Homo sapiens: one gene and its partner. The protein of the gene in region 1 purifies or fractionates together with the protein of each later gene. This does not show direct contact. Each region holds a gene or a part of one and is shown in the gene's direction. Other genes may lie near its edges.

Region 1 (3,752 bases):
GGAGAAAGTGGACAGTATGCATGGAAGCAATGAAGATTTCAGGTAGCAATAAGTGCTGCAAAGAAAGCAAAATAGGAAGCTGTGATAGAGAGTGAAGGAGGAGGTGGGGTGGTTAGTACAGGTCAGAGGGTCAGAGAAGGCCTGACCCATGTGATCCGGGAGCTAGTTCTGCAGAAGCCAGGGGAAGACCATTTCTGGTGGTCTTACCGCAAGGATGAAGGCCGTAGGTAGTAATAATAAGCTTGGTGGATTTCAGAAGCCAAAGAAAGTCAGTGTGGTTATGGCATGGGAGTAAGTGGGTAGTGACATTAGAAGTGAAGAAGAGGCTGAGGCCATGGTGCAGGGCCACAATGAAGAGTTTGGTTTTTAAGCATAATGGAAGCTGTAGGGGGATTGTAGGCCAGGGAGTGAACAGATGTGATTTATATTTTTAACTATTACTTTTGCTGCTCTGTAGAGATTGGGTTGTTTTAGGTTAAGATGGAAGCAGAAGACCATTTGGAAACTACTGTGATAATCTAGGGGATATATGATGCTGTTATACAAGCCACATTTGTAAAGCACTTTCTGGTTTACCATGTACATCCTCACATGTCTTCTTCTTAGACCCTCACAACAGTCCTGTTAGGCAGGGCTGTTATTTTTAACTCCATTCGTTAGGCAGAGAAAGAAATAGGCTGTGAGATGAAATGACAGCTAGTAGTGGGAGAGGAAGTTCTCAGATTGCTCTCCTGGGTCCTGACCCAATTGCTCTGTTCATTGACATCCCCACTGCCATTCCCCAGATCTCAGGGGAACACCATTTAGTTCCACAGTATGTGGGAAATCTAGAAATAAGTGAGCTCTGTGTCTGTCCTCAGCGTGCAGCTGAATCAAGGAGAAGGATATATACAAGGAGTATCTTGAAGTTTAGTGTTGCTCGTCTGATGAACCCTGATTGACTTCATGGTGTTGTTTTTTTGGGGTTTTTGTTTTGTTTTGTTTGTTTGTTTTTGTTTTTTTGAGACAGTCTCGCCCTGTTGCCCAGGCTAGAGTGCAGTGGGCGATCTCAGCTTACTGCAACCTCTGCCTCCCGGGCTCAGCCGATTCTCATGCCTCAGCTTCCTGAGTAGCTGGGATTACAGGAGGTGCCACCACACCCGGCTAATTTTTGTATTTTTGGTAGAGATGGGTTTTCACCATGTTGGCCAGGCTGGTCTCGAACTCCGAACCTCAGGTGATCCACCCACCTCGGCCTCCCAAAGTGCTGGGATTACAGGCGTGAACCACCATGCCCGGCCAGTGTTATTGTTTATTCTTATCTTTTTACATAAGGCTTTACCAGGAAGATGGTGATTGAGTATATATCAGTGTCCACAGTAAGCAGTTCTTTATCCTAATGTATTTCTTCCACATTTTCTCATATGTCAGCTATGTATAGTACTGGTTCTCAACCTGTGGTACCCAAACCACAGCATGACAATTACTAAGGTTTTTAATAGAATGCCTATAATTACATGTATATTTATTAAAAATGACTGGCTTTCATTTTGCAACTCAAGTTGTTTACCAAACTTGATTAGTAGAATCTAAGGTATGAGCAGTTAAAAATAACCAAGTTAGTCTACAACATATGCATTTAATGAAATACTGTCAAACTGCTTTTAGCCAGGCATGGTGGCACCTGCCTGTAGTCCCAGCTACGTGGGAGGCTGAAATGGGAGGATGGCTTGGGCCCAGGAGTTACAGGCTGCAATGAGCTGTGATATTAAGTCTCTGGACATTATGGGGGGTGCCAGCAATGCCTCAAAGCCACCCTAGGAAAGGATAAAGATATGAGGAGGACTAATGAATGCCACAGGGCATGGGGAGGCTTAACAAAACACCTGGTGGGTAACACCTGAAGACTCCAGGGCCAGTCTGCCTGGGTTTAAATCTTATTGCTGTAGCTGGGTGACCACGATCAAGGAGTTTAACCTGTCGGTGCTTCAGTTTCCTCATCTCGAAAGCAGGGATGGGCCGGGCGCGGTGGATCATGCCTGTAATCCCAGCACTTTGGGAGGCCGAGGCGGGTGGATCACGAGGTCAGGAGATTGAGACCATCCTGGCTAACACAGTGAAACCCCGTCTCTACTAAAAAAAAAAAACACAAATTTAGCCGGGCGTGGTGGCGGGTGCCTGTAGTCCCAGCTAGGCGTGAGGCTGAGGCAGGAGAATGGTGTGAACCCGGGAGGTGGAGCTTGCAGTGAGCCGAGATCGCGCCACTGCACTCCAGCATGGGCGACAGAGCGAGACTCCATCTCAAAAAAAAAGAAAAAAAAAAAGCAGGGATGATAATAGCTGCTATGAGGATGAAATGAATTAACGAATATGAAATACAGCAGTCCCTGGCACAGAGCAAGGGCCACAGAAGTGTTTTTGTTGTTGTTGCATCTCCAGGCCTGGCCTCCTCTGAGTCCTAGACTGGAGCATCCAGCCATCTTCTCAGCATCTCCACTCTGACGTCTACTAGGCATCTTACACTTGCCTAAGCAGATCTCTTGCTTTTTTCTTTTCCCTATTTTCTACCCAACTCTGCCTCTACTCAAATCTGTCCCTCTCCTCGTTTCCCATGTCTCAGAAAATGGCACCTCTACCCAACCAATTGCTACCAGAAATCATCACTGACCCCTCACTCCCTAAGTCTTATCAGCTCTGACAGCAGAACTAGACTGTACCTGTCCATTCTACCTCCACTGCTGAGCTAGCCCCCATCACACCTGTACTGCCTGATTAGTCCACCTGATCTCCTTGCTACTATTTTTACTTTCTTATAATTCCTTCCCTACCCAGCAACTAGAATGGTCAGGTTGTTCCCCTGCTTAAAACCTACTGTGACAGATATTGCATGATTTCACTTATATGTGGAATCTCCAAGTTTGAACTCATAGAAGCAGAGAGTAGAATGGTGGTTGCTATGCACTGAGGAAAAAGGGAAATGGTCAAAGGGTACAAAGTTTCAATTAGACAGGAGGAATAAGGTCTGGTGATCCACACAGCAAGGTGAGTACAGTTAACAATCATGTATTATGTATTTCAAAATTGCTAGAGTGGGTTTTTAAAAATTAATTTTGTTATTGATACACATTACATGTGCATATTTTGGGAGCACATGTGATGTGTTACATTCATATAATCACATCAGAGAAATGCAAATCACATTTTTATTTCTCTTAATGATTAATGATATGGAGTATCTTTTCATGTGCTTACTGCCCATTTGTATATCTTCTTTGGAGAAATATCTATTCAAGTCCTTTGCCCATTTTTTTTTGTTTGTTTTGAGACAGAGTCTTTCTGTCTCAAATCACACATTCATAAATGCACGATCATGTGTGCACAATCTAATTGTGATATGTTACCTTAAATATTTGTCTTTTCTTTACACTAGAAACATTCAAATTCTAGCTATTTTTTTTGGCGGGGGGGGGGGGGGCATTAAAAATTTTTTTTTAATTTTTTTTTTTAGTAGAAACAAGGTCTCACTATATTACCCAGGCTGGTCTCAAACTCCTGAGCTCACGCAGTCCTCCTGCCTCGGCTTCTTCCCAAAGTGCTGGGATTACAGGAGTGAGCCACTGCACAAGGCCTGTTTTTTTTCTTTTTCTCTTCTTTCTGTTTTCTTAAGACAGAGTCTTACTCTATTGCCCAGGCTGGAGTACAGTGGCGGGATCTTGGCTCACTGCAGCCTCAATCTCCTAGGCTCAAGTTATCCTCCTACCTCAGCCTTCTGA
Region 2 (3,752 bases), on another chromosome or scaffold:
GATGAGTGGGGACCCATGGGGCCATTTCAAGTTAAATTTCAGTGGGGTCACCAGGAAGATTCCATGTGATAATGAGATTAACGTGCCCAGCACGTGGCGACACTCAGTAGGTGTTATTCCTGCTCTGCCAACAGCAACCATAGTGATAAGAGCTGTAGGGATTTTGTTCTTTTGCTTAGAATCCAAGGTTCAAGGACCTTGGTTATGTAGCTCCCTGTCATGAACATCATCTGAGCCTTTCCTGCCTACTGATCATCCACCCTGCCTTGAATGCTTCTAGTGACAGAGAGCTCACTACCAGGACTACTCCCTCCTTTCATTTAGTAATCTGCCTCCTTCTTTTCTTGTCCCTGTCCTGTGTGTTAAGTCCTGGAGAAAAATCTCATCTATCCCTTTCATTTGATTCTGCTCTTTGAGGGCAGGGGTTTTTGTTTCTTTGTTTGTTTTTTTAAGTGTTGGTTTTCCAAAGCCCTTGCTCCCCTCCTCAATTGTAAACTTCAAAGCCCTACTTGGGATTGAAGGTCCTTAGGCTGGAAACAGAAGAGTCCTCCCCAACCTGTTCCCTGGCCTGGATGTGCTGTGCTGTGCCAGTATCCCCTGGAAGGTGCCAGGCATGTCTCCCCGGCTGCCAGGGGACACATCTCTATCCTTCTCCAACCCCTGCCTTCATGGCCCATGGAACAGGAGTGCCATCGCCCTGTGTGCACCTACTTCCATCAGTATTTCACCAGAGATCTGCAGGATCAAAGTGAATTCTCCAGGGATTGTGAAATGATGCGATTGTGGTCATGTTTAAAAGGGGGCAACTGTCTTCTAGAGAGTCCTGATGAAATGCTTCCAGAGGAAATGAGCTGATGGCTGGAATTTGCTTTAAAATCATTCAAGGTGGAGCAGGTGGGGAAGGGTATGGATGTGTAAGAGTTTGAAATTGTCCATCATAAAATGTGTAAAAAGCATGCTGGCCTATGTCAGCAGTCACAGCCTGGAGGCTGTGAACAGAGTGCCAGTCACTGATGCTCTTGCCTGGCACCTACAGTTGCTGGAAACCCAGAAGTTTCACGTTGAAAACAACAGGACAGTGGAATCTCTGGCCTGTCTTGAACACGTGGCAGATCTGCTAACACTGATCTTGGTTGGCTGCCGTCAGCTTAGGTTGAGTGGCGGCCTCTTCCCTTAGTTTGCCTTAGTCCCCACTATTCCCTATTGTCTTACCTCGGTCTATTTTGCTTATCAGTGGCACTCACGTGGCACTCATAGGCATTTGAGTCTATGTGTCCCTGTCCCACATCCTCTGTAAGGTGCAGAGAAGTCCATGAGCAAGATGGAGCACTTCTAGTGGGTCCAAGTCAGGGACACTATTCAGCAATCTACAGTGCACAGGGCAGTTCCCCAACAGAGAATTACCTGGTCCTGAATGTCGGATCTGGCCCCTTCCTTCCCCACTGTATAATGTGAAAACCTCTATGCTTTGGTTCCCTTGTCTGCAAAACAGGGATAATCCCAGAACTGAGTTGTCCATGTAAAGTGCTTAGAACAGGGAGTGCTTGGCTTGGGGAGTGTCACCTGCAGTCATTCATTATGCCCAGACAGGATGTTTCTTTATAGAAACGTGGAGGCCAGTTAGAACGACTCACCGCTTCTCACCACTGCCCATGTTTTGGTGTGTGTTTCAGGTCCACTTCATCAACCCGGAAACGGTGCCCAAGCCCTGCTGTGCGCCCACGCAGCTCAATGCCATCTCCGTCCTCTACTTCGATGACAGCTCCAACGTCATCCTGAAGAAATACAGAAACATGGTGGTCCGGGCCTGTGGCTGCCACTAGCTCCTCCGAGAATTCAGACCCTTTGGGGCCAAGTTTTTCTGGATCCTCCATTGCTCGCCTTGGCCAGGAACCAGCAGACCAACTGCCTTTTGTGAGACCTTCCCCTCCCTATCCCCAACTTTAAAGGTGTGAGAGTATTAGGAAACATGAGCAGCATATGGCTTTTGATCAGTTTTTCAGTGGCAGCATCCAATGAACAAGATCCTACAAGCTGTGCAGGCAAAACCTAGCAGGAAAAAAAAACAACGCATAAAGAAAAATGGCCGGGCCAGGTCATTGGCTGGGAAGTCTCAGCCATGCACGGACTCGTTTCCAGAGGTAATTATGAGCGCCTACCAGCCAGGCCACCCAGCCGTGGGAGGAAGGGGGCGTGGCAAGGGGTGGGCACATTGGTGTCTGTGCGAAAGGAAAATTGACCCGGAAGTTCCTGTAATAAATGTCACAATAAAACGAATGAATGAAAATGGTTAGGACGTTACAGATATATTTTCCTAAACAATTTATCCCCATTTCTCGGTTTATCCTGATGCGTAAACAGAAGCTGTGTCAAGTGGAGGGCGGGGAGGTCCCTCTCCATTCCCTACAGTTTTCATCCTGAGGCTTGCAGAGGCCCAGTGTTTACCGAGGTTTGCCCAAATCCAAGATCTAGTGGGAGGGGAAAGAGCAAATGTCTGCTCCGAGGAGGGCGGTGTGTTGATCTTTGGAGGAAAAATATGTTCTGTTGTTCAGCTGGATTTGCCGTGGCAGAAATGAAACTAGGTGTGTGAAATACCCGCAGACATTTGGGATTGGCTTTTCACCTCGCCCCAGTGGTAGTAAATCCATGTGAAATTGCAGAGGGGACAAGGACAGCAAGTAGGATGGAACTTGCAACTCAACCCTGTTGTTAAGAAGCACCAATGGGCCGGGCACAGTAGCTCCCACCTGTAATCCCAGCACTTTGGGAGGCTGAGGTGGGCGGATCATTTGAGGTCAGGAGTTCGAGACCAGCCTGGCCAACATGGTGAAACCCCATCTCTACTAAAAATACAAAAATTAGCCGGGCATGGTGGCACGCACCTGTAATCCCAGCTACTCTGGAGGCTGAGGCAGGAGAATTGCTTGAACCCCAGAGGTGGAGGTTGCAGTGAGCCAAGATCGTCCCACTGCACTCCAGCTTGGGTGACAAAACAAGACTCCATCTCAAAAGAAAAAAAAAACAGCACCAATGAAGCCTAGTTCTCCACGGGAGTGGGGTGAGCAGGAGCACTGCACATCGCCCCAGTGGACCCTCTGGTCTTTGTCTGCAGTGGCATTCCAAGGCTGGGCCCTGGCAAGGGCACCCGTGGCTGTCTCTTCATTTGCAGACCCTGATCAGAAGTCTCTGCAAACAAATTTGCTCCTTGAATTAAGGGGGAGATGGCATAATAGGAGGTCTGATGGGTGCAGGATGTGCTGGACTTACATTGCAAATAGAAGCCTTGTTGAGGGTGACATCCTAACCAAGTGTCCCGATTTGGAGGTGGCATTTCTGACGTGGCTCTTGGTGTAAGCCTGCCTTGCCTTGGCTGGTGAGTCCCATAAATAGTATGCACTCAGCCTCCGGCCACAAACACAAGGCCTAGGGGAGGGCTAGACTGTCTGCAAACGTTTTCTGCATCTGTAAAGAAAACAAGGTGATCGAAAACTGTGGCCATGTGGAACCCGGTCTTGTGGGGGACTGTTTCTCCATCTTGACTCAGACAGTTCCTGGAAACACCGGGGCTCTGTTTTTATTTTCTTTGATGTTTTTCTTCTTTAGTAGCTTGGGCTGCAGCCTCCACTCTCTAGTCACTGGGGAGGAGTATTTTTTGTTATGTTTGGTTTCATTTGCTGGCAGAGCTGGGGCTTTTTGTGTGATCCCTCTTGGTGTGAGTTTTCTGACCCAACCAGCCTCTGGTTAGCATCATT

What was found. Proteins that work in one complex are often made in the same cells at the same time.
Region 2: the proteins of NAAA (region 1) and BMP7 purify together in Homo sapiens (affinity purification with mass spectrometry; 3 studies listed by BioGRID and IntAct, with this or other methods). This does not show direct contact.

Annotation. Positions count from the first base shown.
Region 1 is NC_000004.12:75,927,336-75,931,087, reverse strand, and holds part of NAAA (N-acylethanolamine-hydrolyzing acid amidase isoform 1 precursor), read left to right. Parts: intron 1-3,752.
Region 2 is NC_000020.11:57,169,030-57,172,781, reverse strand, and holds part of BMP7 (bone morphogenetic protein 7 preproprotein), read left to right. Parts: intron 1-1,673; coding exon 1,674-1,823; 3' UTR 1,824-3,752. UniProt on the Homo sapiens protein: Growth factor of the TGF-beta superfamily that plays important role in various biological processes, including embryogenesis, hematopoiesis, neurogenesis and skeletal morphogenesis.